2 separate regions of the Homo sapiens genome follow, and region 1 is linked to region 2. Evidence: fine-mapped expression QTL. A gene starts in region 2. The other region holds a variant in brackets. All regions are shown on one strand. Distances are from middle to middle.

Evidence for each region.
Region 1: its variant is fine-mapped to the expression of PARD3-DT in esophagus mucosa (GTEx, PIP 0.97).

Annotation. Positions count from the first base shown.
Region 1 is chr10:35,583,847-35,601,144 of GRCh38, forward strand. LOC107984221 (a long non-coding RNA gene) reads left to right here. Exons shown (of 3, transcript XR_001747422.2): 3 at 189-2,500. Among named protein-coding and RNA genes, the nearest start is that of GJD4, 13 kb to the right of the region's middle. RefSeq lists an enhancer at 10,429-11,071 and a silencer at 17,152-17,298. The variant C/T (reference allele first, on the strand shown) is at 8,450.
Region 2 is chr10:34,805,735-34,820,395 of GRCh38, forward strand. It overlaps PARD3-DT (PARD3 divergent transcript), which reads left to right and starts at 10,034. Exons shown (of 2, transcript NR_108043.1): 1 at 10,034-10,067; 2 at 10,386-10,688. It overlaps PARD3 (par-3 family cell polarity regulator), which reads right to left and starts at 9,562. Exons shown (of 25, transcript NM_001184785.2): 1 at 9,142-9,562. The coding sequence starts at 9,261. RefSeq lists silencers at 3,767-4,061, 8,801-9,080, 9,601-9,770, 9,861-9,910.

The DNA of each region.
Region 1 (17,298 bases), 780 kb after region 2:
TTCTGCTACTTTCCCTGATCAGGGATGGCCTTTATGCAGCTTCCCCTGAATGTCAATGATCAATCTCTTTGAACCAAATCCTGGGGAAATTTGAACGTCTCTAGCTGTTGAAATATCTTTGATTTTGTGAATAATATTTTCATATACTTATGCATCTTGTTCTCTGTGTAATCTGTTATAAAAATTAGAAGAGTCTCGGTATTCAATGACATGAAGACGTCTTTCCCAATCACATTCTGCCTGTACATGAAACTTGTCAGAGTAAACAAGTTGAGTTGACGGACAACCGGGTGCCCCTACGGAAACGTACTGGCAATCAGGCCTGTGAGCAGGAAAATGTCCTGAAATAACCGGAGCAACTGGGCACAGCGCACAACTTCCCAGCATTGCAGTTTATTGTTTTAGAGCCCGAGCCCCAGGCGGGATGCTCAGGACCTGCATTCCTTGGCGATTGGGGGAGATGGTAGAATGTTACAGATGAGGGTGCTTTACATGAGCTCACTCATTTGTGAGAGTCAACTCACTGTGGATTCAGGAGGTCTGAATGATTCCAGCCCTCTGGCTTTTCTTGGAGGAAGCCAACCCAGGCAAACCAATTGCCACCCACGGAGGATGGCTCTTCACCAAAACCCAGGAGGGCCCAGGCCCGAAGACTAGATTGCTCCAGCTTCCTATGGCAGAAAGAGGATGATAAAAATAGTTGATGTAGCAACCTGTCGTGCTGCCCAAGGTGCGTAACCTCATGCTTGTTTGGAAAGACTTGAACAGGTAGCTGAGGGTGCAAACAGGGCAGCTGCATTTGGAGAGAAGAGGATGAAAGAGGAATGAAGGGAGGCGGTGGGACCGGAAAATCAAAGGTGTGGAAAAGATGTGTTATGGTGGGTTAGGTTAATGGACATCTCCACTTCAACAAGACCTTCCACAAAAAAGCTGACACCTCGTGAGAAATCAAGGTCCCACTGCATCTGCAAGAAGGGAAGTTGCGTTTGGTGAGAGCCTGTGATACAAGTGATAAAGATGGAAGCTTACCTTTGAAGAACCACGAAATGCCTCCAATGGACAGGTCATTAAACAGCAGTTCATCTACTCGAGTATTTCCAGGGCTTTGTCTCTAGCTCAGGCTGTCCTCACATCCGTCTGTCAGACACCTCTACTTGACGGAGGCCACCCTTCCTCCCACTCCCTGGCCCTGTGTCCCACACCTGTCCCTTCTTAATGAGGGACCCCATCTGCCTGGGTGCCTGGGCCAGGAGGCTCCCTCCCCTTGGGTTGTCTCCACCCTCACTCATGCCCATCGCTCTGGACTTGGCCTCCTCAGAACCCCCGGGTTCCATCCCTGGCAGCCTGAGGGGCACTCACCTCCACCGCTGCCGCCTTCTGGGTCCTTCTCTTCACAACAGGTGATGCCATCTTCCTCAAATGCAGATCCGACTGTGTCACCTCCAATGGAGACCTTCAGTGACTTTCCATTGTCGATCGGGTAGAACCCACACTGTCCCAGGACCAAACAGGGCCCTGCTTCCACCCTCACCTTGTTCCCGCCCAGGCTTTGTTTGTCCTGCATTGCACACAGTGCCCGGTACCCCGCAGGTTCACTCCCAGCTTTAGGGCATTGCATGTGCTGCTTCCTGCCCATCACAGCCTGGCGACCCTCGCATCCCTTCGGAGCCTGCCACGCCTCTCCTTCAGAAACAGCCCTAACCCGGATACTGCACCCTGCTGCGCTGCTGACCTGCAGGTACCTTCCTGCATCCCATTCCACATGGAGACCCCCTGGGCAGAGGCTTGGCCCCGTAGTATCCCTAGTGCCAAGCACCATGCCCACATGTGCCACTCACTGAATTAAAACTAGCAACTTAATAAAGTTTGAACACTCAAACATATCACACACACTGGTCGCAGACATGCTGTGAAGGCATGTCACCTCAGAAAGGTTGCATTTTGACTCTTCCACCAAGAGTAAATGGCTGCAAGAGATTGGAAGTGGCTGAGCAGAAGGTGGTCTGCAGGAACTTCCCAGCGCCCACCCCTGCCCCATGGGAACACAGGTGGGTCTTTGGTGGTGGAAAACATACTCTGTAAATAGCCAAGTGAGTGCTATTATGAAGTCAGGGGAGACACTGTATGGAGAAAAGCTACAGAAGTGGAAATACATTAGCCAACCCGACTTCAAGGGAAATGACTGTCCCATGAAACTGGGCTGGAAATGCTCCAAGGTAGGCTGAGCTGGGACCTGATGCTGCGTAAAGAGCCCAGAGGGAAGGGTGAGGTGTGGAGAACTCAGACCGAATGTGAAGGGTGTGAGCACCCCATAGAAGTTCTGCATTGGAGGAACACCCAAAGACTTAGGGAGTTGGCATCCAAGTAGCTTGGAGGTAAGCTGAAGTTATTTCTTCTTCCTTTGTGCAAAGTCCTTCAAAAATATCTTTGATCTAAGCTCTCAGGCACCACAGGAACACACAAGCATTTGTTCTCAGCCTGGGCGTGTTCGGTGGTGACAGCAAAGGCACCTGCCCTCTAGAACAGCCTGGAAACAGCTGGCAGAGAAGAGACAGCCTGCAGCTTACCCCAGCCTCCGTGTGTTCAGGCTCCCCGGTGGTGTGTGCTCACTCTCCCTCCTTCCCTCCCTCTTTCTCTCTCTCTGTCACACACGCCCCCATACACCCCTATGTAAAATGCCTGTACCCCAAGAGATCAGAATTAGGGTAGGGTGTTCGCTGCACCACCAGTTCTGCTTCTGATCTGAGTGTCCAGGGTCAGGTTTCTTGTGACCACAATAAGTATTGCTTGAATTTCACACAATTTCCTCCCTCAGAGGTCCCTGTGCCTTCAGAGGACTATACAAAAAACACCCTCTGGAAGTGTGAGGCTCCTGCATGTACCTACGTGTGTGTGTGTGTGTGTGTGTGTGTGTGTGTGTGTGGTCAGCTCTGGGTTAAATGGAAAGACCACGGTCCTGGAAGAGGCAGCTCTGAGTCCAGATTCTTCTGTGATCTTGGGCAAATTCCCTCACTTTCTGCTAGGGCTACAAGAACAGAATACCTCAGAGACTGGGCGTCTTCTGCAGCAGAAACACCCTCTCACTGTCCTGGAGGCCAGAAAGCCGAGACAAAGGTGTGGGCACCGTTGGTCTCTCCCGAGGACTCTCTCCTTGGTTCGCAGATGGCGGCTTCCCCCGGTGCCTGTAGCATCTTCCCTGTGCACGCACCTCCCTGGTGTCTCTCTCTGGTCGTAATCTCTTCTTCTTAGGACACCAGTCAGATTGTATTAGGGCTCACCCTAATGGGCTCATTTTAGCTTCATTACCTCTTAAAAGACCCTGTCTCCAAATATAGGCACGTTCTGAGGTTCTGTGGGTTAGGACGTTAGCAGATGAATGTTGGGGGGACTTGTTCAGCCTACAGCACTTTTCTCAGCTTCATTTTTGCTCTTGATGTCTGAAGGAGTCAAGCCAGTGATTTCCGAAGTCCTCTCTGAATCAACCAGTTCTGTCTGGGAGTTCTGTCTGTCTCTCTCTCTCTCTCTCTCTCTCTCTCTCTCTCTCTCTCTCTCTCTCTCTCTCTCTCTGTCCTCTCTCCTGAGACTACAAATACTTAGGTGGCCGTGGCCATGTGGTTTTCTTTTTCTTTTCTTTTCTTTTTTTTTTTTTTGAGATGGAGTCTCACTCTGTTGCCCAGGCTGGAGTGCAGTGGCACGATGTAGGCTCACTGCAACCTCTACCTCCCAGGTTCAAGCAATTCTCCTGCCTTAGCCTCCCGAGTAGCTGCGATTACAGGTGCCCACCACCACACCCAGCTAATTTTTTGTATTTTTAGTAGAGATGGGGTTTCACCATGTTGGCCAAGGCTGGTCTTGAACTCCTGACCTCAGGTGATCCACCTGCCTTGGCCTCCCAAAGGGCTGGGATTATAGGCTTGAGCCACTGCACCCAGCCAGCCATGTGGTTTTCTTTCTGCATGTACCTCTCCATCTGAAGAGAACACCCCTCCCTCTCCATCTCTGTCAGTTGCTGGTGTTGTCATAGCTAAGGTCATCTGAGCTGTCTCCCTCTCTAGGTTGCACTTTAGAGTGGCAGTCAGGGAACAGAAAGAAGGCAAGGCTCACATGAAGGAAGATGGGGCCCAGTACAATGTGGCCCGGCGTGCAGGGCTCCTTGAGGTCCCAGGACCATTCCTAGTTAGGGCTCCACCCAACAGCAGGCCCAGGCCCACCCTGGCTCTGGGCACATCCTCATTGTGAGTGTGTGGATCAGGACACACACCCCACCCCTCAGGTCTCGACTGGCTCCTGTATCTGCTACCAGCCCCAGAATCAGCGAGTGTTACCACATTTTTTTTTCCTAAGAGACAAGTTCTCCCTCTGTTGCCCAGATTGGAGTACAGTGGCATGGTCATAGCTCACTGCAGCCTTGAACCCCTGAGCTCAAGCAATCCTCCTGCCTCAGCCTCCTGAGTAGCTGGGACTACAGGCATGTACTACCACGCCTGGCTAACTTGTTTTTCTATTTTTTGTAGAGATGGAGGTCTTGCTATGTTGCCCAGGCTGGTCTTGAACTCTGGGCTCAAGCAATCCTCCTGCTTCAGCCTCCCAAGTTGCTGTTAACTCCTTCTGAGCTGCCCCCCCTTACACTAAGGAAAATGGTGGATGGAGCTGTAAGTGCAGGAACAGAAAATGACCTCCTGTGGGGGCTGAAAGGAATTCTTGCCCGAAACCATCCTTTTCTCCTCTCAGCTCCAAAGAGAAGAAGCATATCTGTGTAGTTACTGTCAGAAGCTCATGCATATCCTGTCCTTGCTCCCTTAAATAATGGCTCCCAATGGCCATATTGAAAGTGCTGTACTCTGAGAGAACTTTGGATATCTTCAGCTCCTGGTTTGCCTCAGTATCCAATTTAACAGAAAAGAGAGAGAAACAGAAAGCAACTGCTTTTAGAGTTTGGTTGTTCCTGAGAAATGGTAGAAATGCCCTGCAATTTCCATCCTGTTTCAGTTCATTGCTAAGGCTTTCATTGAATAAGAGCTTAAAAAACAACAACAACAAACTGAGCCAAAACCAAAATGACATAAACAAAGGCACAGTTAATTTCAACCCATCTGTCTTTTGTCAGAAAAAGACCTTCTGTTTTTGATCACTCTGGCAACAGCATGGGTTTTGTTTTTTAACAGCTAAGTAAGAAGTTAGAAATAGAAGGAAGAACTCCACACCTGTTGCTTTTAGGGTCAATTATTTATTGATGTCATAAACTGCACAGAGGAAGGCATTTTGCTGCAGAAGCTAATGGAGCTACAGTGCAGTAGCTGTATCAATCAGCTCAGCTCAAGTATTTTATTTTTGTTGTTGTTGCTGTTTTTTGTTTTTGTTTTTGTTTGTTTGTTGTTTAAGACAGAGTCTTGCTCTGTCACCCAGGCTGGAATGCAATGGCATGATCATGGCTCACTGTAGCCTCGACCTCCTGGGCTCAAGTGATCCTCCCACCTCAGCCTCCTGAGTAGCTGAGATGACAAGCATGCACCACCACACTGGCTAATTTCTTTTTATTTGTATTTTTTGTAGAGGTGGAGCTTTGCCATGTTGCACAGGCTGCTGTCAAACTCCTGGGCTCAAGTGATCCTCCAGTCTCAGCCTCCCTAAGTGTTGGGATTGCAGGTGTGAGCCACTGCACCCGGCCCAGCTTTAGAAACAGGCTCAACTCTTTGGACTCTCCAGCACTCTATACCTACTTTCATTCCAGTGCCAAAATTCACTGCTTCCTTTGAGAACTTTATATTTGTTTCAGTTGTTAAGTTAAAATATTTTCACAATCATAGGAGGCCATCAAGTTTTGATTTGCAATCTGAAGGGAAGAGAGGGGATTCTTCATAAAGAAATGGACAGTATGTTACCCTCATTACAGAAGACATGGTGAGGGGTTTTATTCTCTGTGCCTCATGACGTCTCTCACAGAGACAGGGGTGTAATGCCTGCATTGTGAGAGGAATTTCAGGCATGGGGGAGAATTAGGTGTTGAATTACCAAGATGTTTCCTCACCTGTAAAGGCTGAGAGCCCCAAGTTTATAGTTTATTTATTGAAAAATAGAAGGCAGGCTGGCTGTGATGGCTCACGCCTGTAATCCCAGCACTTTGGGAGGCTGAGGCAGGAGGATTTCTTGAGCCCAGGAGTTTGAGACCAGCCTGGGCAACATAGCAAGACCCCATTTCGACACAAATTTTAAAAATTAGCCAGGCATGGTGGCACGTGCCTATGGTCCCAGCTACTCAGGAGGCTGAGGCAAGTGGATTGCTTGAGCCCAAGAGATTGGGTCTGCGGTGAGCCATGATTGCACCATGGCACTCCAGCCTGGGTGACAGAGCAAGATCCTGTCAAAATAATAATAATAATAATAATAATAATAATAATAATTGAAAATGGGAGGTAATAAACAGTATGGCATGCAAGATTAAAAAAAAATAGAACAAAACAACCTTTGTCACTGAGAAAAGCAATAGTTTACTCTTGCTAGTATAAGGATTTCTTATCATAAGCATGCTTTTCCTTGCAAATGGGAGAAAACTCAATGAATGAAAACAGAAATATTTTGGTTTCTATTTCTAATCCATGTCTCAATGCCCACAGCATTTCTGGAGAGCCACAGGGCTGGAAGCAGAGTCTTATTCTTTTGTAAAACTTAAGTCATGGAGAGTTAAAATTCTAGTTCATTTTCCATGTCTGTTCTTTGTCCTAGTTCATTCAGGCTGCTATTTAATAAATACCATGAACTGGGTGACTTATAAGCAACAGAAATTTACTTCTCACAGTTCTGGGGGCTGGGAAGTCCAAAGTCAAAGCATCAGCAGATTCAGTGTCTGGTGAGGGTGTTTCGTGGTTCCTAGACCCAGCAACTTCTTGCTGTGTCCTCACATGGCAGAAGAGGCAGGGCAGCTCTCCAGAGCTTCTTTGATAAGGGCACCAATCCCATTCATAAGTGCCCCACCCTCATGACCTGATCACCTCCCAAAGGCCCCACCTCCTCATATCACATCACCTTGGGGGTTAGGATTTCAACATATGGATTTGGGGAGCACATAAACATTCAGATCATGGCATTATTGTTTTTGTGATTTTTTTTTCTTCTTCCTTCTCTTCTCCTTGGTTTTCCAGCTCTTCCTTTCTCTTACTTTTCATTTTTGTTTCTTTCCTAAGTGTACACAATCTGCCCCATACATGATCATGTCCAGGTTGACTTTATCATTTTCATGGCCTGGTTAGAATATTTTATTTCAGGTTGCTTGCAGAGAGGCAAGCACACATCTTCATATAGCAAAGACAGATTACAGATTCATGGGAGGAAGTATCTTACTATATCTCTGCATCCCCAGGGTAAAGGTAAACTGGGATCGAGGTTGATGCAGATGATCAGGCAGAGGTTTCTGCTCATGGCCAAGATAGAATAAATAGTACTGGACTAGACGTCCCACTGCAAATAACTTAAAAAACTAGACAAAATATGGGAAGCAATAATGTTCGGCTATTGAAAACAGGCAGCAAAGGATCATGCTCTCTGACACAATGGAAAGAAATGAAGTAAGTCCTATGATAGTTTGAGCTTTTACCTGGAGGCACTTTTTGAATGGCATCCAGGAAGTATCCAGGTAGGGCAGAGGGGTCTCACTGAGTTGAGAAGCCACAGATCAGAGATTAGGGAGGTTGGCACAGCTGAGGTGTGTAGGGCGAGACACAGAGAGGAGGAAGCTATGCAGAACTCCAGAAATCTACGTCGAAGTCCTCTTGAGTCTTGGGCTGAATATTAAACTGTGCATGCAAAGCATGGAACTTTCTAAGTCAGGAAATGAACAGCTTTGAGTGGAAGCTTTAAGCTGAACAATTCTAAGTCTCACACAGGGCAAGGAGATATTTAAGTTCTGACTAGCTACAGTTGGGAGATCTTCTTAAACACCTGAGAAATTCAGTCAAGACTCAGGAAATATAAAACCCTGATAGTAGGGCTAAATTAGACCCGTTTTAACAAAGCTTAAAATTAGCCTGGGAAAGACCAAAGTAATACACAAACAACTTAACTGCCTGCCAAACCAAAATTTAACACTGTTTAAAGGAAGATAAAATCAAGACATTCAACAACATAACACATATAATGTTCAGCATGCAATAAAAACAACTAGACAGATTAAGAAACAAGAAAATGTGACCCATAATAAGGAAAGAAATCAGTCAGTATAAATAGATTCAGAAATAATAGATCTAGATGATGGAATTTACAGATGAGGAACTTTAGACCAGTTATTCTAAATATGGTAAAGGATTTAAAAGAAAACAAATATAATGAGTGGAATCATTACATTGATTCAGAAAAATATACTTCAGGATAAGAAATATTACTAGAGATGAAGAGGGACATTTCATAATGATAAAAAGGTCAATTCATCAAGAAGCCATGCAAATCTTAATACGTA[C/T]GCACCTGATAACAAAACTTCAAAATACATAAAACCGGCCAATCAGGAAATAACATCTATATCTACTGTTTTAAATTAAAAAGAAAAATTCCACACAGATATTTGCAAGGTGATTTTTATCAACATAAATTTATTAAGTACACTATCCTTGGGCATTAACCTAGGTGACAGGAAAACACTTTAACAGATTCGACATTGGTCTTAAGAAGCTCAAATAGGGTTGAAATACAGAACACACGCACAGAGATTAAAAGATTAAAAGACATGTGTCATGTTGTATTTTCCTTAAATGTTTGCCTCTCCATTTTTGAATCCAATAAATCATTAAGCTCTTGTTGGCTGTTTTCCATCTTGAAGTATTAGTGCTTAGCCTTACAAAGTTTGAGGTAGCTGCTTAGTCATCCCTGCTATGTTCAAGTGTCTACATAAGCCCCTCCTAGGGTCCACCGGAACCCACAGAATTGGAAATCTAGTGGAGATTCATTGTTAACATTACAGAAGACATGGGACTAGCGATCTCCTTTGGGGTTCCAGTTAGGCTTATACTGCAGCTGCCACCCCACTTTCTACCATTCTTCAGGCAAGTAGTGAGCTATGAGTGCGCTCACATTATGAAGAATACGTCTTGAAAAAGGAAAAGGATTAGTGTTCAGGGTGATTCGCACTCGTTATAGTTAAGCCAGCAAGGCCTCACTTAGGATGAGAGAGGAGCCACCCCTTGGGAAAATCATTTATATATATGCTTTATATACACACATTTAATCTTTTAAAATTCAGTCCCATTTCCCAAGGAAATTGCCTGGAGGTAGTGTTGGGATTAGAATGGATTACCCTAACAGAGTCTTTTCATAAACCCAAACTGAGCTAACAAGAAGGGCTCTGTGTTGCCTTTTAATCATCCGTTGAGTTTTCTTATGCCAGCTCTTTCCAAGAAAGATTGAAGTTGCTTGCCAGCATGCCTGCTGTAGATCTTAGCTTGTTCCAGAAAGGAGAAGCAACTTCTCAAAGATTGTCTCTTATAGTCTTGCCTGACAATGAGAGCTTCTCCATGACGCTCTCCCTGGGTCTCCCAGTGGCTTCTTTGTGTCAAGTGGGAAGAATATGGACTTCGGAGTCAAATCAATTGGGATAGAATCCCAGCCTTGTCATCTACAGCCTGCGTGGTGTTAGGCAGTTGTGAAATCTCACAGAGACTTATTTTCTTCTCTCTAACTTACCTCACCCACAGGCGTGTGTGTGTAATGCAAATACCATTCTTCATCGTGTGAGTGCACTCATAGCTCACCACTTGCTTGGAGAATGGGTAGAAAAACGGGGTGGCCACTGTGGGACAAGCCTAACTGGAACCCCAAAGGAGGTCTTCTGTAACGTTAACATGAGTTTCCACTAGATTTCCAATTCCGTGGGTTCCGGCAGACCCTAGCGTGGGGGGCATGTAGACACTTGGACTAGCAGGGATGACTATGCAGCTCCCTCAACCTTTGTAAGGCTAAGCGCTAATACTTCAAGAAGGAAAACAGCCCTAGTTGTCTCCTTCTTGCTCTCTTCATACTCTATTATAGACCTTACTATTCACTATTGTTATGCGGCCATGTCTTCTGCCTCTGGGGACATGGGAAGCTGGTCACTGTTCTTGCTGTTGGAAGTACACTCAACTGCCTCCCTCTCCTACAGGGGAAAGCCTGCGTCTTACCTGTTCGCAGTCCCGACACATTGTCCGGCACACTGCAGATGCTCAGTGTGTTATTGTTGAAGGCCACTCTCATTCCTTTTCAGAAACACTCAATAATAAACTCTCATTCCTTCCTTTAGGGAAGTGAAAAACAGAACAACAGAAAAGCAAAAGCAAAAGGCTCCTTCCATTTTCTCCTGTAGCTGCCTCACAGAATGGGTCCTCTTTAGGCTGAGGCCGTCACACTTCTGTGGCATATGGGGTGGGGAGCGTCCATGTCAGGCCCAGTTTTTCCCCTCACCGGCTGGGTGGCCTTGACCATCGAACACAGAAGTGAAGTGCATGTGCACCCACCAGGGTTGGTGGCTCACGGGGGACCCAGATCACACTCATGGGTATAAAAGTGATCCTTACGACAGTGGTGCCACCAGATCCAACTCTGTCCCTTCACCCAGTCGATTTGAAGCTGTTGTCCGTTTTTCTCATACTTAATTTTCCTACTTTGTTGTTTGTCTTTGCTTTCATCTGGAAATAGAGCTTGGTAATTGCATTGCTGGTTTCCGTGGAGATCCAGGCCATAGCCACTGCATTGCAGCAAACAAAATGGAATGTACCCTACCTTCCTTTCATTTGTGTTCCTTAAGAGAAAATTTGAATTAAAAAGACCTCCCGAGATCACCTGTCTTTCAAATTGCTGGTGCAGCTGGGCGCAGTGGCTCACACCTGTAATCCCAGCACTCTGGGAGGCCAAACGAGGATTGCTTGAGGCCAGGAGTTCATGACCAGCCTGGGTAACATAGTGAGACCCCTATTCTACAAAAATAAATAAGTAAATTAGCAAGGCATGGTGATGTGTGTGCCTGTGGTCCCAGCTACTCAGGCTAAGGCAGGCAGATTGCTTCAGCTCAGGAGCTTGAGGCTGCAGTGAGCTGTGATTGGGCTACTGCACTCCAGCCTGAGTGATGATAGGCGGCAGAGGAAGACCCTGTCTCTAAAAAACCAAACCAAACCAAACAAAACAAATTGTCCCACAGGGTGGGACATTAGCTCAGAGATAAATTAGCTGTCGCCTGTGCTTCAAGACACTACTGTCTGGCCCTTCTGAATATATCCGCATTTGGAACAAACCTCGTCCTGAATCAAAGTGGCTGTGAATGTTTGGAGGGTTGGCATCTAACAGTTGTGAGTTTTAAAATGGATTGAATTCCTTCATTCCCTCTTCTAATATTTCACGGCAGAGAACAAAGAGAACACACAGAGGGAAAACGTGGACTAGTTCCTCTCTCTTAACAAGACTAATCATCTGATGCTGAAGTCACCATGATCACAGCTGCCTGTATCTCTGTTCCCTCCCCTCCCTTCCTCTCTTCTCTTCCTTCCTCTCCTCTTTTCTCCCTCCCTCCCTGCTTCCTTCCTTCTTTCCTTCCTTCCTTCCCTCCCTCCCTTCCCCCAACCCTTCCTTCCTTCCCTCCCTCCCGCCCTTCCTTCCTTCCCTTCCTTCCTTCCTTCCCTTCCTTCCTTCCTTCCTTCCTTCCTTCCTTCCTTCCTTCCCTCCTTCCTTCCTTCCTCCCTCCCTCCCTTCCTTCCTCTCTCTCTCTTTCTTTCCCTTTCCTTCCTTCTTTCAGTTATTGTCTAAAACGTAAAAATGAACAGGAGGTCGATATGAGGACTCACTAATCCTGAATTTGGCCTTGCTCTGTGTGATGCTGGAGCTCTGCAGCATGGGAAAATATCCGTGACATCCCATTGGCCCCCTTCTCCACCCCAGGCCCTTACCTTCACAGAAAGGCCTGCTTCCAGGAGCAGTGTTTCTAACTCACACCATAGTAAAGATGACTGATAAGACGTAGTGAGTTGCCTCTCCCAGAGATTTTAATTTTTATCACCCTTAAAAGCCAGAAGACCTCAAGTATTTAATATTTGATGTTAGACAAGAGGCATAGGTGTGTTGAGGCAGGAGGCCCTACCCAGGGTCCGTAAGCTGCCTGCCTGTTATCCAGAAGGGAAGGAAAACAATCATTTACTTTTTTTTTTTTTTTTTGAGAAAGAGTCTCACTCTGTCACCCAGGCTGGAGCGCAGTGGCATGATCTTGGCTCACTGCAACCTCCGCCTCCCAGGTTCAGACGATTTTCCTGCCTCAGCCTCCCAAGTAGCTGGGATTACAGGTGGGCACCACCGTGCCCAGCTAATTTTCATATTTTTCATAGAGATGGGGTTTCACCATGTTGGCCAGGCTGGTCTCGAACTCCTGACCTCAGGTGATCTGCCTGCCTCGGCCTCCCAAAGTGCTGGGATTACAGGTGTGAGCCATCGGGCCTGGCCTCCTCCATCTACTTTTACTACTTAGAAAAAAAGAATGTAAGAAGAAAGCTTTCTTAATAAGTCCTCATGTGCTGTCACATAGTGGGGTGACATAGTTAACAATAATGTGTTCTATATTTCAAAATAGCTAGAGGAGAGGATTTTGAATGTTCCCATCACAAAGAAATGGTAAGTATTTGAGATGCTGGATATGCTAATTATCCCAATTTGATCATTACACAGTCTATACGTGTATTGGAACATCACACTGTACTCATAACTATGTACAATTATCATGTGTCAATTTAAAAAGACTAACTTCTTCAATGGTATATACAACAAAGAGAATAAAACACGATAACTTAAAATTTTGAAAAAGCAAAGCCTGCACTGCTTCCAAGCAGAGAGGACCTCCCTGCAAACATACAGTGCTGCCATTTGTGAAATGCTGGTTGCAAAGCACAGAAGAACTCCGGCTGGCAGTGCATTGCCTGTGGGTGTTAGCGCTCGTGGGACAAGCACCCTCCATTCAGGGGTGCTGCCACTGATTGCTGGGGAGCTGTGCTCTTGGAAGGCCTCAGCGGGTCATGGAATCTGTTCCATCAGAGAAATAGTGCAACACACTTTTGCAGATAATTAAGATTTGGACAAATGTCTGGCCATCGGGAGCCCTAGGCTTTGGAAAGGGCTGTGGACACAGAGAGGTCAGGACCGAATGGTTGACAGTGAACATCCCATGCCAGGGAACGTTGAATCAGGAAGGGTTCGAGACATGAGAAATAGCCTCTGGTGTGTTGTGACTGCTTCATTCACTGAGCAAAGAGAAAGAACCACTCCAGTTGGTTGGCCATGCCAAAAAAGGCCAGCCCTGTACACACACAAAAAATGGACCATGTGAAAGAAGTATGAACGACAAGAAGAAGGCCAGGCGTGGTGGCTCACACCTGTAATCCCAGCACTTTGGGAGGCCGAGGCGGGCAGATCATGAGGTCAAGAGATTGAGACCATCCTGGCCAACATGGTGAAACCTCATCTCTACTAAAAATAAAAAAATTAGCTGGGCGTGGTGGCGTGTGCCTGTAGTCCCAGCTACTCGGGAGGCTGAGGCAGGAGAATTGCTTGAACCTGGGACGCGGAGGTTGCAGTGAGCCGAGATCATGCCACTGCACTCCAGCCTGGTGACAGAGTGAGACTCCGTCTCAGAAAAAAAAAAAAAAAAAGAAACATACGAAGCAAACCGAATTCTTCCTACTATTTATCGGATGTTTCTGCTGTGCTGGGCAGTTTACACTTGTTAGTTCGTTTCATTCTCTTACAACCCTGAGAAGTAGGAGCTTTGATTATCCCTGTTTCACAACTGAGTGAAAAAGATTCAGGATCCGTGGGGGACTGAGACTGGCCGGACCTCTTCCCAGCGTATTCTCTCTACTGTTGATGAAGTGGAGCTGACTTCCAGCTGAGGGGCAGTGAGTGCAAAGGCACATCTTGGCCAGGGAGGACTAGAGCCTCACATGGTCTTGGGCTGGGGGTGGCAGGGCAGAGAGGCTGGGCAGGGCAGGCATTGCTCTGACAATGCATGTGCTTCTTGTCATAATGAGCACCGCAAGAGGAGGACACCCAACCCAGTCTTGGGCAAAGGAGATAGAAATCCCTGGGAGCCAGTCACAGAGAGGAAACGGCTGTGGCAAGTCTCAGAGGCAGCAGAGATCAGAGGCCGTGCAAGGTCAGTGCCATTGCAGGGTCGGGGGGAGTAAAGGGTGAGGCCCGAGAGGCAAGCGGAGTCCAGGGCTCGCAGGGCCAGGCAAGCTCTGTTTGGCACCATCAGTGAGGAGCCACTGAAGAGCTTTAAGCAGTGAAATTTTAAAACATACCTCACGGACACTGAGTACTAGTTTTCTGCTTGGGTGAGATGGATCTTGGTGCCACTCACCTAGAGAGAGAACCTGTGGCCGGGCGAGGTGGCTCACACCTGGAATCTCAGTGCTTTGGGAGACTGAAGCAGGAGGATCATTTGAGGCCACGAGTTCAAGACCAGCCTGGGCAACGTCATGATTAATGGCAAAAACCATAATTACTTCTGTGTCAACCTAATATTTGCTGAAGGTCAAACACTGGTCAGCAATTGGAACCAGAACTGAACCCACGTCCTCTACCCTTGAACTTTGTGCTGTTTTCTCCTAATTACTTCTTTGACTACCAGTGACTGCTTGATGAGTACTTTTTTCATTGATTTGACTCTAAAAATGAATATTCCCATCCGTGAAAGGAACAGTGTGTTTGTGGCCAGTGCAGAGACCCCTGCTGGACACCTGTGTGTTGGAGAGAAAACGACGCCTGGGAATGCTTCCACCAGGTCCCTGCTGGGTAGTGTCACTTTAGCCTGCGAGGGACAGGTGACACGAGTTACAGACAGGCTGCAGGAGGTAACTTGGTCCATGTGCATACACTATACAGAATTTTAGGGCATTTTAGTAATTTTCAAAATGTGCCATGCAGCCACTGGTCCAAGTGAATTAGAAAAGAGAGCAGGAATTCATCAGGGAGGGCTCGTGGTCATAACGTCCACGTGGCTGCCCCTTCACCGGCTTCTGTCTTTACTCAAATGTATTCTTCTTAGGACACTGGCTACCCCATTAAACCTTGGCATCCACTACCCTCCTTAGAACTTATTACTAACAGTCAATTTTGCTGAAGACATTTATCTTGTTCTTTGTCAATTCTTCCCACTAGGATGTAAGTTCAGTGAGGGCAGGAATTTTTATACTTCATTCTCTGCCATTTCCCTAGTGCCAAGAACAGTGCTGAAGACACAGCAGGTGCTCAGGGAACATTTATGGTACTAACTGTGTTCATGATACTATTGGTAATGTTTTGAAAGGCATCAGTAAGTCAAAGGGCATTGTTAGAAACAATGACAAAGAAGAGGATGATTCCTTCCTGCCTGGATGGTGAGAACATGTGTTGGATTTGATTGCAGCTGATATCACATGAAGGGTGTCCTGACATATTGCTCAGGACCTGTGAGCAATGGTGGAGTCCTTTGCTTTCTTCACAAAAGAAAACTCAATTCCCCTGATTTTTCTGCTCAATTTCTTTTCCTTTTCTTTTCTTTTCTTTTTTTTTTTTTTGAGACGGGGTCTTGCTCTGTGGCCCAGGCTGGACTGCAGTGGCCTGGTGTGATCTCAGCTCACTGCAACCTCCGCCTCCCAGGCTCAAGTGATCCTCCTACCTCAGCCTCCCAAGTAGCTGGGACTACAGGCACACACCACCACGCCTGGCTAATTTTACTATTTTTAGTAGAGATGAAATTTCTCCATGTTGGCCAGGCTGGTCTAGAACTCCTGGGCTCAAGAAATCCACCTGCCTTGGCTTCCAAAAGTGCTGGGATTGAAGGAGTGAGTCACTGCACCCGGCCTCTGCTGTTTCTGAAGGGTGCCTTAGAAAAAATTCCATAGAAAAGTTAAAATAATACAATTTCAAACACTTGAAGGGCTAACATTGGGCTATCCAGATAATTGTATTTCTTAACAGTCAGGACAGTTGAATTTTTTGTGTGTGTTTTTGATGTGTTACAGATCAAAAGTCAGGGATAGCAAATATCATTTAAGCTCTGTACTGAGGCTGGATGGTCTTGGCCACATCTTAATTTCACCTGAAAGTTGGGAAGGTGACTAAGTATATTTTAAGGTGACTTCCATTTCCAAAGATGCCTGGGTCCGCGAGTCTGTGGAAAGTGGAATTTTGGGGGTCTATGCATTCCACACTGGGGCCCGTCTTTGCTGCCTTGGGGAATGTGATTTAAGCGCATTGATGCACATCTCACAAGTGAGATATCTATTAACCTGCAGCCTCATCTGACCTGCTTGCATCTAATAGGCAGCTGTTTAGTTCAGCACTTTCCTCTGGGGTCTTCTTTGGCCAGCATGCCCTCCTGTGGCTTGGGGAGGAGGCATCATTTTGGTATGATTGAGAGAATGAATCTGTGTCCATTCAGTGTATCTTGGAAGATCTTAGGACTGTCGGAGGTGGGAACAGTGCTTGGAAGTTCTTTTCCTCCCTTGGGAGAGAAGCTATGCCTCTCTGCATAGAAGAACCAGCCCAACTGCCTCAAAAACAAACTCCAGGGGGCACTGTGAATGCTGTCTTGGTAGAGAAGACATTGGGGAGCTGTGCAGTTGAGTTGAACTGGAATTGAAAATGCAGTCCAAGAACGACTGTTTGGGGACTTTAAGAGCAGGAAAAGGCTCAGCTGAAGAAAACAGAAAATTTCTTCCTTGTATCAGTGGTTAATTTTTAGCTCTAAGTCTTGTGAGGGGGAGTCTGTGAGTGTGGCTGGGGTGGGATGGCACTGACCTGGTTCACCCTACAGTACCTGTGCCAGTGGGAAACTAGATTGACAGGAAAGTAGTATAATCTATTTTGGGGGTAGATTTGCATATGCAGATGAGATGCAACTGTAGGCATGATTAAACTGTTGTGTTGGTGCAGCTGCTAAATATTTGCTTTCTGTCTACAGTCCTGGAAAAGTCATTTACATCTTGATAACAATGAAAACATATATTTCTCAAATCAGATACATGATTCCTTAAACACACACACACACACACACACACACACACACACACCCCCCAAAACAAAACAGTTACTATCATTTCCTAGCCCTCCAGAAAGTGAACTCTATTTCCCTGGGAGCCCTTTTCCCACCAGCCCTGGAGCACCCATCATCGAGAAAAAGTCACTCCAAGCCTCCTGCATCTTTGCTGGTACATCATTCTTGGCAGGTAATAAAAAAGAAAAGCCAGTGATTGGGTATGCATTATTGGTGGGGCACCGTTCTCTAGGCTTTAGGCATTTTCCCATGTATTCCTTGCCATC
Region 2 (14,661 bases):
GGGAGGCTGAGACAGGCGGATCACGAGGTCAGGAGATCGAGACCATCCTGGCTAACACGGTGAAACCCCACCTCTACTAAAAATACAAAAAAATTAGCCAGGCGTGGTGGTGGGCACCTGTAGTCCCAGCTACTCGGGAGGCTGAGGCAGGAGAATGGCGTGAACCTAGGAGGTGGAGCTTGCAGTGAGCCGAAATCACGTCACTGCACTCCAGCCTGGGCGACAGAGCGAGACTCCGTCTCAAAAAGACAAAAAAAAAGGAAGAAGGAAGGAAATTCTGAAGGACACCCTAGACAAATTTTTTTTTTCTGTTAGAGACAGAGTCTCGCTGTGTCACCCAAGCTGGAGTGCAGTGACACCATCATAGTTCACTGCAATCTCAAACTCCTGAGCTCAAGCAATCCTCCCACGTCAGCCTCCTGAGCAGCTGGGACTAAAGATGCACACAACCATGTCTGGCTAATTTTTTTTTTTTTTTTTTGAGATGAATCTCCCCATCGCCCAGGCTGGAGTGCAGTGTCGCTATCTTGGCTCACTGCAACCTCTGCCTCCCAGGATTCAAGTGATTCTCTTGCCTCAGCCTCCCAAGTAGCTGTGATTATAGGTGTGCACCACCATGCCCAGCTATTTTTTGTACTTTAAGTAGAGATGGGGTTTCACTACTTTGGCCAGGCTCGAACTCCTGACCTCGTGATCCACCCACCTCGGCCTCCCAAAGTACTGGGATTACAGGCGTGAGCCACCACACCCGGCCTATGCCTGGCTAATTTTTTTAAAAAGAGACGGGGTCTCACTATGTTGCCCAGGCTGGGTCTTGAACTCCTGGCCTCAAGCAATCCTCCCACCTCAGCTTCCCAAAGCTCTGGGATTACAGGCGTGAGCCTTCTCACCCAGCCAACCCTAAGCAAAATTTACCCTAACTCTGAATAGCATCCATTTGACCTGGAGAGCAAGCCCCGTCATTTCAAAGTTGGGGGGGTCGGGGTGAGGCAAAATATTCTCACAGCATGGAGGGAAGCAGTAAGAGGTCCTGGACCCTGTATAACCATCTGAAAAGCCACTGCACATCACTTATGGTCCCATGAGCACCAAAACAAACCATGCAGAGCAGGAGTCCCTGCACAGCTCAGGGAACTGGCAGTGGGAGTCCAGCCCAGCACCTCTGAATATGAGAACATGGGGAAACAGAGGCTCACAGAGCTTGTAAGATTTGCCAAAGCTCAAAATTTCTGGGAGCCAAAGCCAAATGCTGGAAAGGCTGGTCCATTACGTGCATCCTTGGGGCATTCTCAACCTCCACTGCACAAAGGTAGCTGGCGAGCTGGGTAGAAGGAGTCTCTGGCTAAAGAACAATTGGTGAAGCCCTTAGAGGGGGTAGGGGGTAGCACACAGAGACCAGGGGACCTGGAGGCTCAGCAGCCAGGAGCTTACCAGACACTAAACAGGACACATTGGACAGGCCTGAGAAAGCAGGGATTCCACACTATATGGAAAACTCCTAAAGACAGCCAGTTTTCATTTGAAGTGTTTTGAGCATCTCTGATACACATATATATGTCATTTTATGAAATGCTCAGAACTACAAAATACCTAAAAATGGAGCGTTGTTCATAGTGGCTTATGCAGTCTATTTTTCTAACATCTTTATTGACATATAATCACATAACCATAAACTCCATCCATTGAAAGTATACACTTGAATAGAACTGTGCAACCATCACCATGATCTTAGAATATTTTCATCATCCCAAAAGGAAACCTCATACCCATTCACAGTCTCCATGACTCCAAACTCCCAGTCCTAGCGGAACACCACTCTACTGTCTCTATAGAGCTACCCACTCTGGTCATGTTATAGGAACAGAATTATACAATATGTGGGCTTGCTGCTATGAACACTGATGTACAGGTTTTGTGTACACATTTTCATTTCTCTTGTGTGCTTGTGTGTGTGTGTATATATATAAAGAGTATATATAAAATATATACAGAATAGAGTACAGAGACTATATACAAAATATACTCTGTTTAGGTGAAAAAAATAAATAATTGATATTTAAAGTCACTTGGATGTGGAGCTTGAAATTTTACTTGCAAGGACCAATATGAGTTGATGGAGAAAAAAGGAATACACAAAAGTAATATTTAAATGGCAAAAACCACGTAAAGATAGCAGGCCAGATGCAAGAAGGCACAGACCTATACACGAAAGTTATTTTAACTTTATTTACTAAAATGTTTACTTATTTACTAAATAAGTTAAAACAAAGTTATTTTTACTTATTTGCTAAAATTTAGGCCAGGCATGGTGGCTCGTGCCTGTAATCCCAGCACTCTGGAGGACCAAGGCAGGTGGATTGCTTGAGCTCAGGTGTTTGAGATCAGCCTAGCCAACATGGCGAGATGCCGTCTCTACAAAAACTACAAAAATTAGCCAGGTGTGGCGGCACACAACTGTAGTCCCAGCTACTTGGGGGACTGAGGCAGGAGGATCGCTTGAGCCTGGGAGGTTGAGGCTGCAGTGAGCAGAGATCACGCCACTTCACTCCAGCCTGGGTGACAAAGACCCTGTCTCAAAAAAAACAAAAGAAAGAAAGAAAAAACTTGTAAATAATGACTAAAAGACAAAAAAAAATCAGTCATCTTTCTACTTTATTCACTGAACTCGGCATTTATTTTGATAAAGATTTGCTTTTGTACAGAAAAGGTACCCAAAACAGGTAAAACTGTATACATTTACTGATGTCCAGCTCTACTGCCATTGACCTTGGTCCCAGCCAGGAATGTTGAGCGAGTGGCCAAGCAGGATGAAAGCATGCTGTGTGGGCTTAGCATGCCATCTCCCCCGATGGAAAATTACCTATAGAAAGCACCTTCTGGCCCAATCTTACATGTTTATTTCCATCCTTGATAAAAAATACCGAGGGCTCTAATCATCTATGGGGAGCTCAACATCACCAACTTGCACCCAACTCTGTGGGGAGGTAGAACCTCCCAGGACAGACGGAGGATCCGTCTGTGGGTTTGCATCCAAGTGGGACTTTAAATATTCCCTCCACAACCAATTTATCCATGTCTACCACAAGCCAAGAAGCGCTTCACATCCGCCAGATTCTCTCTGAGAATCTCAGATCCTAAACATTCCTACTTAGTCCTGGCACTCAGCCAAGCATCTCAACTGACGGAATCAGAGGCGCCAGACCAAGCATAGGTGTGTTCCAGGGCCAGATTCTCACACAGCCCTGGCCACCTGCCTTGAACCTCGCCCAAGGCGAATCCCAGGAGGGTCCTCTGCTTGAGCTGAAAAACAAACTGAACTCCCTCAAGACAGCTGATACGAAAGAGTAACTTCCAAGTACTCCAAACCTCATTAAATCTTAGTTTCCATTACAAGCTGTTTGTGCCAGTAGGTCAAACACACCAAACCTTAAAGTCCTTTAAATTCACGAGTGCTGATGATAGTCCTCTCAGCAGAAGTGTATTTTTTGTGTGAGAGCAGTGTAACATGTTGATTCTCAGCTTTCTATTTACTCAACATTCTGACTGCAATGTGACAGACACGGGCTATTCACCAAGACTGAAGCTCAGCCACCGCTTCAAGCATTTCACCCGGAGGGAGGAAGGGCGCACGGATACACTTGAAAACCACACAGCACAGCCCAAGCATCTGAGTCGGTACAGGAGCTACACCCAGGACGTCCCCAGGAGAGGCAGCAGGCAGGGAGAAAGATCCTCTAGCAGCTTGGGATGGAGAGCCAGCCTCCTGGAGATGGCTGTCTGGGCTAAGACTCACGAATGAGTGCAAGGAAGGAGCAAATGTCCCAGGCAGAAGAAACAGAAAATGCCAGAACAGAGGCAGCAAAGTGTATGTGAGTCCCAGGGGGTGGAGCAGCTGCAGAGGGAGTGGCTGGAAGGCAAGAGGGGTCCCTACAGGGACAGGCTGTGCTCAGAAGGCAGGACTTGGAGAACGCGGGACAAAGGCGCTTCAGCACCAGAGGACAATGTGACTTGAATTCTGGAAAGATCAGCCTTTCAAAAATGTTTAGTTTCTTTTTCCTTTTTAGAGGGAAGGCAGAAAATGTTAAAAAAATAAATAAATAAATAAAGCTGCTTTCATTTCACTATTTTTATGCTTGCCTCTATTTTCTTTCAATCTCTGCAACAGTACAACTATTTTCTTAAAAGTTTCAATACGCTTGTAAATGAATAACATGCAGTCATACATTTATTCACAGAAAAATTCCATACCAACCACAAGATTTTTCATAAAAACCATGACTGTCATTGTTACTAATCAACAGTCTCCCGCCACCAAAAAAGCACATTTTCAAAAGTTTCTGTCCATGAGCTCAACTTTTTAAAAAATACAGGTCAAGCATCCCTAATTGAAAAATCCAAAATCCAAAATACTCCAAAATCTGAAACTTACTGAGCACCCACATGACGCCACACCTGGAAAATTCCACATGTAAGTACTTACCACAGACTTATTTTCAAGCACAAAAATACTGCATAAAATTACCTTCAGGCTATGTGTATAAGGTACGTAGGAAACATAAATTCTAACAATACATTAGACTTGGGTTCCATCTTCAACCTATCTCATTATATATACAAAAATATCCCAAAGTCCAGAAAAATCCAAAATACTTGTGTGGTCCCAAGTATTTTGGATAAAGGATGCTCAACCTGTAATAACAACAGGTTGCTATTAAATCACTCTAAAGTGATGTGCTTGGGGACAGAAGCCAGAGGCCCCAATAATCAACCTGTAATCAAGCCAATACCCGCAGCTTTTACTTCCCCAGCCCATACACACATGCAACACACAATTTTGTTCTCCTGATTGTGGTGCTGCACGTCATTCAATCTCACATTCTTACCTATCCTTCAATGAAATTACATGCTGCGTTTTTAAGTAAACAGGAAAAATCCAAGCAGCAATAGTGGGACACCTGGGAAAGTTCCCTGGGTGTAAAACTGCTTGGTGGATAAAACATATTGGTGATTCCATTCATCTTTACGGAGCAGCTAGTATGGGCCGGGCCCAGGACTTTAGAGTTTCCCTCTCATCATCCTGTTTAATACTTACATTAACCCTGCCAGGGAATATTCCACTTGAGATAATGGGGCTCCGTAGGGTTGGTGTACCCAAGGTTAAATGGCCTGTAAACCTAAGTCACCAAACCCAATACAAAGCTCCCCTATACCCAAGGTTAAATGGCTTGTAAACCTAAGTCACCAAACCCAATCCAAAGCTCCCCTACAGGCTGAGAGGAGAGCTATGAGGGAGGTGGGAACAGTGAGCAAAGGGGCTCCAGCACCTCCTTGCCCTCACTTTTGCCCTTCACTCTCTCCTTCCCCTTTTGGTCACTCAGCAACCTTTATTTAGAATGAAATGCTAAGGAATTATCCATCCAAACCTCATCTAAGGTTGCTCAGGTCATCCTCCTAGAACTACTTGTTACCCTGACTCTTAGCTAAACACCACAGTCCTTCCTACTGCACGAAGTCTCAGGGTCTTGCCCTGGCATTCTGTCCTCCTCAGTTTGATCCTGACCCCCTGGGCTGAATGCCTGAATCGCCTTTGTCCATACTGCCTTCCTGGAATGCCCTCCCTTTCACTTATCAGAATCGTAGCAGACATTCTGCAGATTCACACACCTAGACCCCAACTGCAGACCTCAGACCCAGAGCCCATCTGCCCCTGCAGGCAGGTGCCTCACCCAGTTAGCAAGCACTGCCCTATATCAAGGTCAGCCTTCCCACCAACCAAGCCCAGTTCAAATCCTAGTGACTAAATGAGACTCCCACACACACCCCATAATGATAGCACCCACCTCCAAAATCCAGAAGCGATTACTGACTGTATCACAGTGGTGCCAATTAATGCTACCACCTCCTGTTATTTATACTGTTATATATTCTTCCTGTCTCCTAGATTATACTTTTTTTTGAAAATTGCACGAATTCAGTCTTATATTTTTTTCATAGAGCATGACTTTTTATACACAGCAGCCCTTCAACCAACCCCACACAGCGCTGCAGCTCAGCACCATGTCCACCTGGAATCACGCGTGTCAGGTCGCAAGCGCAGAAGAACAGATGCAGACACGGTCCATCCTCCCATCCTGCGCCCTCATGAGAACGGTCCATGTAACGCGGTTCCCAATGTCTAGCACCGCACTGTCCTCAGCGAGGCTCCTAATGCAGATGGGTGGATGAGGATGAACAGCTATTCCCAACCATCAGTGATCACAACCACAAAACCATCTTTCAGGAGAGGAAAAAAGAAATGTCACACATGACTAAGCATAAGCCTTCAAATATCTACTCACTGAGGACATGTCTAGTATTAAATCATGACACTTCACTATCCAGAAAAATTGATTTGTGTAATCTGAAGAGAAAACAGCTCACATGCAATGCCAGAAAATTAGCCCCACCACACCAGAAAATGTTTACTGCAGAGAAAGCCTTGGTGATTTGAGAGTTGGGACCTTTCTCTTTTCCTTTTTATTTTTTATTTTTGGCTTGGTTGGTTATTATCCAAAGCCATAAACATGATCTGCCCACACTTTTCCCCACCAGATGGGAGCTCATCAAGCCACATGTCACCTAGCAACCTAAACACCACTCCACAACTATCCAGCCACCCAATTCTTCACACAGAATTTCTCTTGTTCTATTAGGCAATACGGATAAGGAACAGATAGAGAATAAAAGTTAAAACAGTGTTAAATACATATTAACACTTCCTCATCACTTAATATAGAATGGGAAAAGTAGTAAGAAAGACTAAAAATTAATCTTAATCATTGTCTAGCAATTTCAGAAGAAAAACGAGAAAAAGGAGACCTAGAAGACACTCCAGCTCTGGCAACATTTAAGGGTCAACAATCTTGGGATCCAATGACTGAACTTGGTATACTGCAAAGCCCCCGTTAAAATTCACCTACAGAACTCTAAGTTGTACTTAAAGAGCATGTAAGTGTTGGAACCCCTGACCCATCTCTGACCCTCCCTCTCATCTCCAACTCCCATGTCACTATCACCCTCCCTTCCTTCAGCTCATAGGCCCCTTTTCTCTTTGTGACACCTTCCCAGACACCCTTAAAAAACTGCACTCCCTTTTCTACGCCCTGTGAAACAACCACTGCTAATCGTTAATAAGGACCAGGTCCGTGACCAAGGCCCTGCACTCTAGCCACCCAGCATCCCAGAGGCCACCTCTTCTCCCCATGTCATCACCAGCTCCTTCACCTGGAGGACCCCGCAGCCTCTTGCTCAGCTTCTCACAGCCAGTGGGTCCCTTAGATGTCCAGCACCCAGAACAGTGCCATGGACACAGTCAAAGCTTCAGAATTTCTGTGGAACGAATGCCTGGAACAACTACATTTGAACTACTGCCAAACAGGCAGTTCAGCCTATGTCTATTTTGTGCAGGATGAAACATGGGACACAGTAGGTAAAACAATTTTAATCACATAAAATTAGTAAAGTGAAAGAAAATGTTGACCACCCTCTTCCTATTCAGGAGCCTAGACGTACTGCAGAGTGCATATTACTTTATTTCTCTTTCCTTGCACAATTTGTTTTGTTGGTTTCCAGAGTGCCTGAACAATTTGAGTACTCTTTTGGAACATTTAAAGCATAAACTGTCACACATAAACAACACTTAAAAATGCTAAATGTCCATTTAGATGGTTTTCTTTCCCTTTGTCAGCTTTGCAAGATAAACAGGTGCCCAATTCCCACTAATTTTATTTGATTTTCAATAAAAGAGTTCAACTGTAAGGAACATAACAGAGCTACTAAAGCCAACGTCTTCCATCCTTGTGTCGGGTCTCCAAACGTCCCCCAAAATTATCTTTAAAAGGCCAAATTTATGCTATTTTTTCCAATATATACTAAAAGCAAAACAAAAGTCTAAAAAGCTTTTACTTCTTAATTTCTGAGAGAACTGAAGATGCCACCGGAGTACCCTGTGTACGCTCAATAGGGCTGACCAAGCCACTTTCCAACGTCATTTGCAGCCCCCAAGCCCACAGGGGCCAGGCCACTGTCGGGAACAAATGGGAAATACTGCACCCAAACGAATGCGCTCCCCACCAAAGAGGACTCTACTACAAAGGAAATATATCCCCGGGTGCTTGGGAGAAACTTCAGCGTGGGCTGTTGTCAAACACAGACACAGTCGGTAAAACAATTTAACAAAACGCCTTTTCACTTCTGACACACAGTAGAGGAATGCTGTGAAGTGGAGACAATGTTATCAGTCCACCAGGAAAAAGGGAAATCCACTCAACTCCCAAGTCAGGCCCGGCCCCGCAGCCCAGCCACATGGAACCAGCCCGGGATAGGTAGGAGCTGAGGTCCTCGCAGGAAAACTTTTCATTCCGCGACTCTTCCAAGGTTGTGCTTTCCAGAGCCCAGCAAGTGGGATCAGCTCAGTAAATGCTCGCAAGCGAGTGCCAAGTGCCAGCGGTGGCCCTCCCGGGAACGCCTCCCCGACCCCAAGCCGGCGACTCCCCAAACCCTGCAGCCCCCGGACGCGACGGGCCGCCCCTGCCGGCCCCTACCAGCAGGGGACATGGAGGAAAAGCCCCCCGCCGCTGTTCCGCCCCCGCCCGAGTAAGGGAGAGGAGGCAGAAGGCTCGCAACCCGCCTCTGTCGGAAGGGCAGTCACGAAACTCTCCTCACACCAAAAGTTCCCAGTCCCCGGCCTGTGCCCCCGGGGCCTGGGAGCCGGGAAAGGCCTGGGGCTGGATTTCCCGGCCTGCGCCCCCCGCGCGCTGGCTCGGGGCTTGGCTGGGTCTGCAGACTCCGGGGAGGCGCCCAGGGCCGGCCTATGCGCCGCTGCCCGGCTCGCCCCGCGCTACCGAGGCCGGAGCTCCCGGGCGGAGGGTGAGGGCGGGGGCCGCGGGACCCGGCTGGGTGTCCCAGAGGCTGCGCCCCGGCCCGCGCAGAGAACTTTGGCGCCCGCAGTCCGGGGCGGGGGGCGCCCGCGAGGCCCGACCGGCCGCACTTTCCCTTTCCCCGCCTCCCTGCGCCTCTCCTCCCCCTTCCAGGAAGCGCCATATTGATCCCGGCGCCGTCCCCGCCGCCGCCCCCTCCCCGCCCGCGCCCCCGGCCCCTCACCTTGGCGATGGCCTTCCGGTAGCGGGTCACCGCCTGCTGGATGAGGCTGAAAACTTTCATGTGGCCGTCCCCGCACGGCACGACCACCCGGGTCCGTCCGAAGCACACGGTCACTTTCATGCCGCCGCCGCCGCGGGCGGGCCCGCGCCCCTCGCCGAGCGCAGCCGGAGCAGCCGAGGCCGGGACCGAGGACGCTGGGCGCGGAGGAGCCGCTGGGGACTCGGGCGCGCGGGCGGCTAGGGGCGCGGGCAGGCGGCGGCGACGCCGGGGGGCCGCTCAGCTCGCATGCCCGGCCCGGCCGCCCTCGCCTCGCCTCGCTTCGCCCGGGGCTTGCCTCGCCTCTCCCCGCCGCGGCGCCCGCAGCCTCCGGCCACCTGTTCGGCGTCGCGGCGCGCTCGCCGGCGGCTGCCCGGGGCTGTGTGGCGCTGGCGCTCGCTCGGGGCCGCTGGGGGAGGGGACGGCGGGAGGGGAGGGGAGGGGAGGGGAGGGGAGGGGGAGGAGCAGGGCAGGGCACACAACACCGCGCACATGCGGCAGGGGGAGGCGCGGCCGGCTACCCGCGCGGGGCGGAGCGCAGGACCGCAGCTCGCGCCCCCGCCACCGCCCTCGGGGGCCGACCTCCTTCCCTCCTTCCCTCCCTCCCTCCCTCCCTCCGGGGGCGCGGGACCCCTCGCCCCAGTGCCAGCACGGGCAGGCGGCCGTCTGCCCCCACCAGCCCTGGCCCAGGCGCCCCCCAGCCCCCTTCACCCCGCCCGCCCAGCACCCTGCAGGGCTGCGTCGCCCCTCCTCGGGGACGCCCCTTCCACGCCTCCAGAAGTCTCCACGGAGCCCCCCTTCCCCTTTCTTTGTCACTTTTAATCCCATTCCTCGAACTGGAGGGTTTTGGGTGCAGGCGCTCCCGGGGAAAGCAGTTTGTGCTCAGTGCGGTGAGTCCCCTCCTCACCGCCCCGGAGGCTCCAGCCCGAGCCTCTCCGCCCGCGGGGACTCGAGCCTGCAGCTTGCTCGGCTGGGTTTCTGCCCTGCCCGCTCCCTAGCTCTGCTGCAGGGCCGGCAGCGGCAGTTCTGCCTGAAACGCAAGAATTAATAGTCTGCTCTGGGGAGACAGTGGGGAAGCCGTGAGCGACCGGGCCTTTTCCAGAGGCCACTATTTACCTTGAAGTTTCCTGTTGACCCTCTGCTGACCCACCCGCTTAAATAGATTAGAACTTAAACATCGCAATTCTGATACATTTATTTCTTTGAAGTTCTGCAGCATAAGGAATCCTAACGCGAATCCGTGAACAGTCTATTCCGACGGCGCAGAGAAATCTCACGCGGGGATCCCCACGATGTGCCGGCGCTTAACGCAGACGCCCGAACCCAGGGGAAGGCTGCGACTCCGCGATGAGTGACATGCGGGCTTGAGACGTTCTAAAGGAACGTGGACCGAGTTAGGGAACGTAACTGAAGCTCATTTTGTCTTAGTTATGGACTATGAGTCCTTAATAAATGTATGTCATTATGTTTAAAGAATGACAAATGTCTGCAAAGAGTGGTCCCTGTCCCAAGCCCTTTCCAGACTATGTGAAATTCTTTTTTGCCAGTTGTTTCCAAGACACGTGAAAGCAATCAAGCTCCCCTGGGTTGGCGCAGAACTTGAGCACTTAAGAGCTGGAAGAGCTGGCGATCGACCATCCATCCCACTCCACCTCCAATCTTAAAACAAGGAAACAAGACACGAGGTTCGTCCGCTTGCCACACTCCCTGCGCTTTGCAGCACCGCAGCTGCCCCAGCATAGTGCAGTTTCTCCTAGGAAACATTGCCCTTCCTCTCCTCTCCCAGCCCTGGACCACCACTTTCCACCACCTGTCCCAGCAAATCAGTGCAGTGGTGTTAGCCCCATCTTACTCCAGGACATTGACCCAGGGCCAAAGTCACTTGCCCAAGGCGGCAGAGAAAGCTCAAGGCAGACCCAGAAATAGTCTAGGTTTCCCTCCTTCCACTCAGCCATGGGAAAGGCTCCTCCTACTGCTGTTTGGCTGCAGCACTAGACATTTCTAGCCAGTAATTAAGTTTGTGACAACGATGACAACAACTGTTGATGTGGGTTTTTTGCTTCTTACATAGATACTTGGATCCACAACAACAATTACTGATAATTATAGGTGTTGTTTCTGTTTTCATGCATTGGGAGAGTATACTACTAGTTTAGAATGTATACTACTTTATTTTATTTTGTGTTTTTTACATTTATTTATGTATTTATTTTTATTTATTTATTTATTTATTTATTTTGAGACCAAGTCTCGCTCTGTTGCGCAGGCTGGAGCGCAGTGGCGTGATTTCGGCTCAGTGCAACCTCCGCCTTCTGGATTCAAATGATTCTCCTGCCTCCGCCTCCCGAGTAGCTGGGATTATAGGTGCCCGCCACCACGCCCAGCTAATTATTGTATTTTCAGTTAGAGACAGGGTCTCACCATGCTGGCCAGGCTGGTCAATCCGCCCGCCTCAGCCTCCCAAAGTGCTGGGATTGCAGCGTGAGCCACCGCGCGGCAGAGAATGTATACTAGTTTTGATGCTACACTAGTTCAGAGGGGTATACTAGCTTGAGTATAATAAATTAGAGTGGGGCTTTCTCAAAATAATTCTAATCGAAAGTCATTTTTCAGTAATAACCAGAGTACATAGGACATCACACTGATCTAGGTTCAGATCCATATTTGGCCACTTACTAGTGCCTTAGACACAACAGTCACTCTTTCTCCAGCCCGTTTTATCAGCTGAAAAGTAGAGAAGTAGAGCTTATCATATCCATATCCATCTCATAGATCTCATAGGTTATGAGTCAGTCTTTCTTTTTTTTTGAGATAGAGTCTTGCTCTGTTGTTCAGGCTAAAGGGCAATGGCACAATCTTAGCTCACTGCTGCCTCAGACTCCCAGGCTCAAGCAATCCTTCCTCAGCCTCTAGAGCAGCTAAGACTACAGACAAATACCACTATGCCCAGCTAATTTTTAAATTGTTTGTAGAGATAAGGTCTCACTATGTGGCCCAGGCTGGTCTTGAACTCCTGTCCTCAAGCGATTCTCCCGCTTCAGCCTCCCATAGTGCTGGGATTACAGGTGTGAGCCACGGCACCTGGTCATAAGTTATGAATGTTAAATAAAATAATGTATCAGAAAACAGTACGGCTGGGTATGGTGGCTCACGCCTGTAATCCCAGCATTTTGGGAGGCCGAAGTGGGCAGATACCTGAGCTCGGGAGTTCGAGACCAGCCTGACCAACATGGAGAAACCCCGTCTCTACTAAAAATACAAAATTAGCCGGGCATGGTGGCACATGCCTGTAATCCCAGCTACTCGGGAGGCTGAAGCAGGAGAATCGCTTGAACCCAGGAGGCCGAGGTTGCGGTGAGCCGAGGGCAACAAGAATGAAACTCTGTCTCAAAAGAAAAAAAAAAAAACAGTACATGCTGCCACGCTGCCACATGGGAATGTATAGCGTAGTACAGTCCAGTTACCGTAATGAAGGCAGAGGGTAACAAAGTCCAGCACAGGATAGCAAATGATGACAGTGGAGGAGGCAGGAGAGATGAGGAGGACAGGAGAAGACCAAGGCTCAAAGAAATGACTAGCCAGGTGATACAACTTTCCAGTGACTGGGCTAGGACTACAACCAAAAACTCCAGCTCTGACTCTCAGGCCTGCACTCAATTCACTTAAATTTGATTCCACATGCAGTTAGTAAAGACCTTCCTTGCAGGAAGCACTGGCTAAATATTACAGAATTATAAAGGTGAGTAAAAGAAGGACAATCTAGAGGTCAGAATAAGATAGCTATTCCAATAACTATAATTCAACACATTAAATATTCAGTGCCAGCAAAGTGTTTATGGCGGTACTAGAGAAGGGGGAAGCTTTCATAACAGAGATGACATCAGGATATGTGGATACCATTTTATGTACATCAATTCCTTTAACTATTCAATACCTAATAAGGATATGGATGTTTTTAAAAAATATGATCCAGAGGATTAATAACACTGATTCCACCAACCAGATAAAGCCTTACAGCTGTATTTAAATCTACCTAGTTTATCTAGATGCAGTGATTCCGTTTATATTAATAATGGATGAAAAACTAGTACTGCATAATTCTAGATGCCAGAGCCTTTGGTGTCTTGAGTCAAAATTCATGAAAATTTTTTTGTAATTCATAAAATTTCATGACACATTGGGAATACATATCCAAGTCCTCACCTGCCCAAATAGAGCCCCCTTCAAAATATTCCAGGGTTGCCCTCAACCAGTCCATCAGCAACCATCACCAAAGTATCCACTGCCTTTTTTTTTTTTTTTTTTTTTTTTGAGATGCAGTCTTGCTGTTGCCTAGGCTGGAGTGCAGTAGCACGATCTTGGCTCACTGCAACCTCTGCCTTCCGGGTTCAAGGGATTCTCCCACCTCAGCCTCCCAAGTAGCTGGGATTACAGGCGTGCACCACCACGCCCGGCTAATTTTTATACTTTATAGTAGAGACAGGGTCTCACCATGTTGGCCAAGCTGGTCTCAAACTCCTGACCTCAAATGATCCACCCACCTCAGCCTCCCAAAGTGCTGGGATTACAGGTGTGAGCCACCATGCCTGGCCCTTCTCTGCATTTTCGTTCTCCTGTTCTGGTTCCCAGACACTGCTGGAAGGTATGTCAGCACTGCCCTGCTGAGAGAGCCCACTTTGCAAAAACTTGAGTCCAGGCTGAGATCACCACTTCTAGAAGCCCCGGTGTCACCCAGCCTCAGAATGCCAGAAAAGGCCCATCCCTGCAGAAAGTAAGCACCCATGTTTGCCATGACCCACCACTCAGAGCCCAAGTCCCCAGTCAAATATCTCCCTCCTTCCCAGGTCCCAGAGCTGAAGAATGAGGTAGCTTGTTGGTGAAGTCCATGAAAGTTGGCAGAACAAGGTGGAGGCTGGCAGAGCAGGTGATATTAACACTCAACTCTGTTAAAGACAAATGTGCAGCAGAGTGGAATAAAGCCACCTCAGCCACTCACTTTCTGGCGGGCCACCTTGACTGGAGGCAGGATTTGGAAAGTCCAGTGATATGAAGAGGTGCTTCGTGGTGATGCTTTATAAATGCCAGTTCTAGCTGAGCATGGTGGCTCATGCCTGTAATTGCAGACTTTGGGAGGCTGAGGTAGGAGGATCACTTGAGCCCAGGAGTTTGAGACCAGCCTGGGTAACATAGTGAGACTCTATCTATACGAAAGTTAAAAATTAGCTGGGTGTAGTGGCAAACACCTGTGGTTCCAGCTATGAGGCTGAAGGATCACTTGAACCCAGGAGTTTGAGGCTGCAGTGAGCCATGATCATGTCCCTTCACTCCAATCTGGACGACAGAGTGACACACTATCTCAAAAAATAAAATAGGGCCGGGCACAGTGGCTCACGCCTATAATCCCAGCACTTTGGGAGGCCAAGGCAGGTGGATCACCTGAGGTCGGGAGTTCAAGACTAGCCTGGCCAACATGGTGAAACCTCG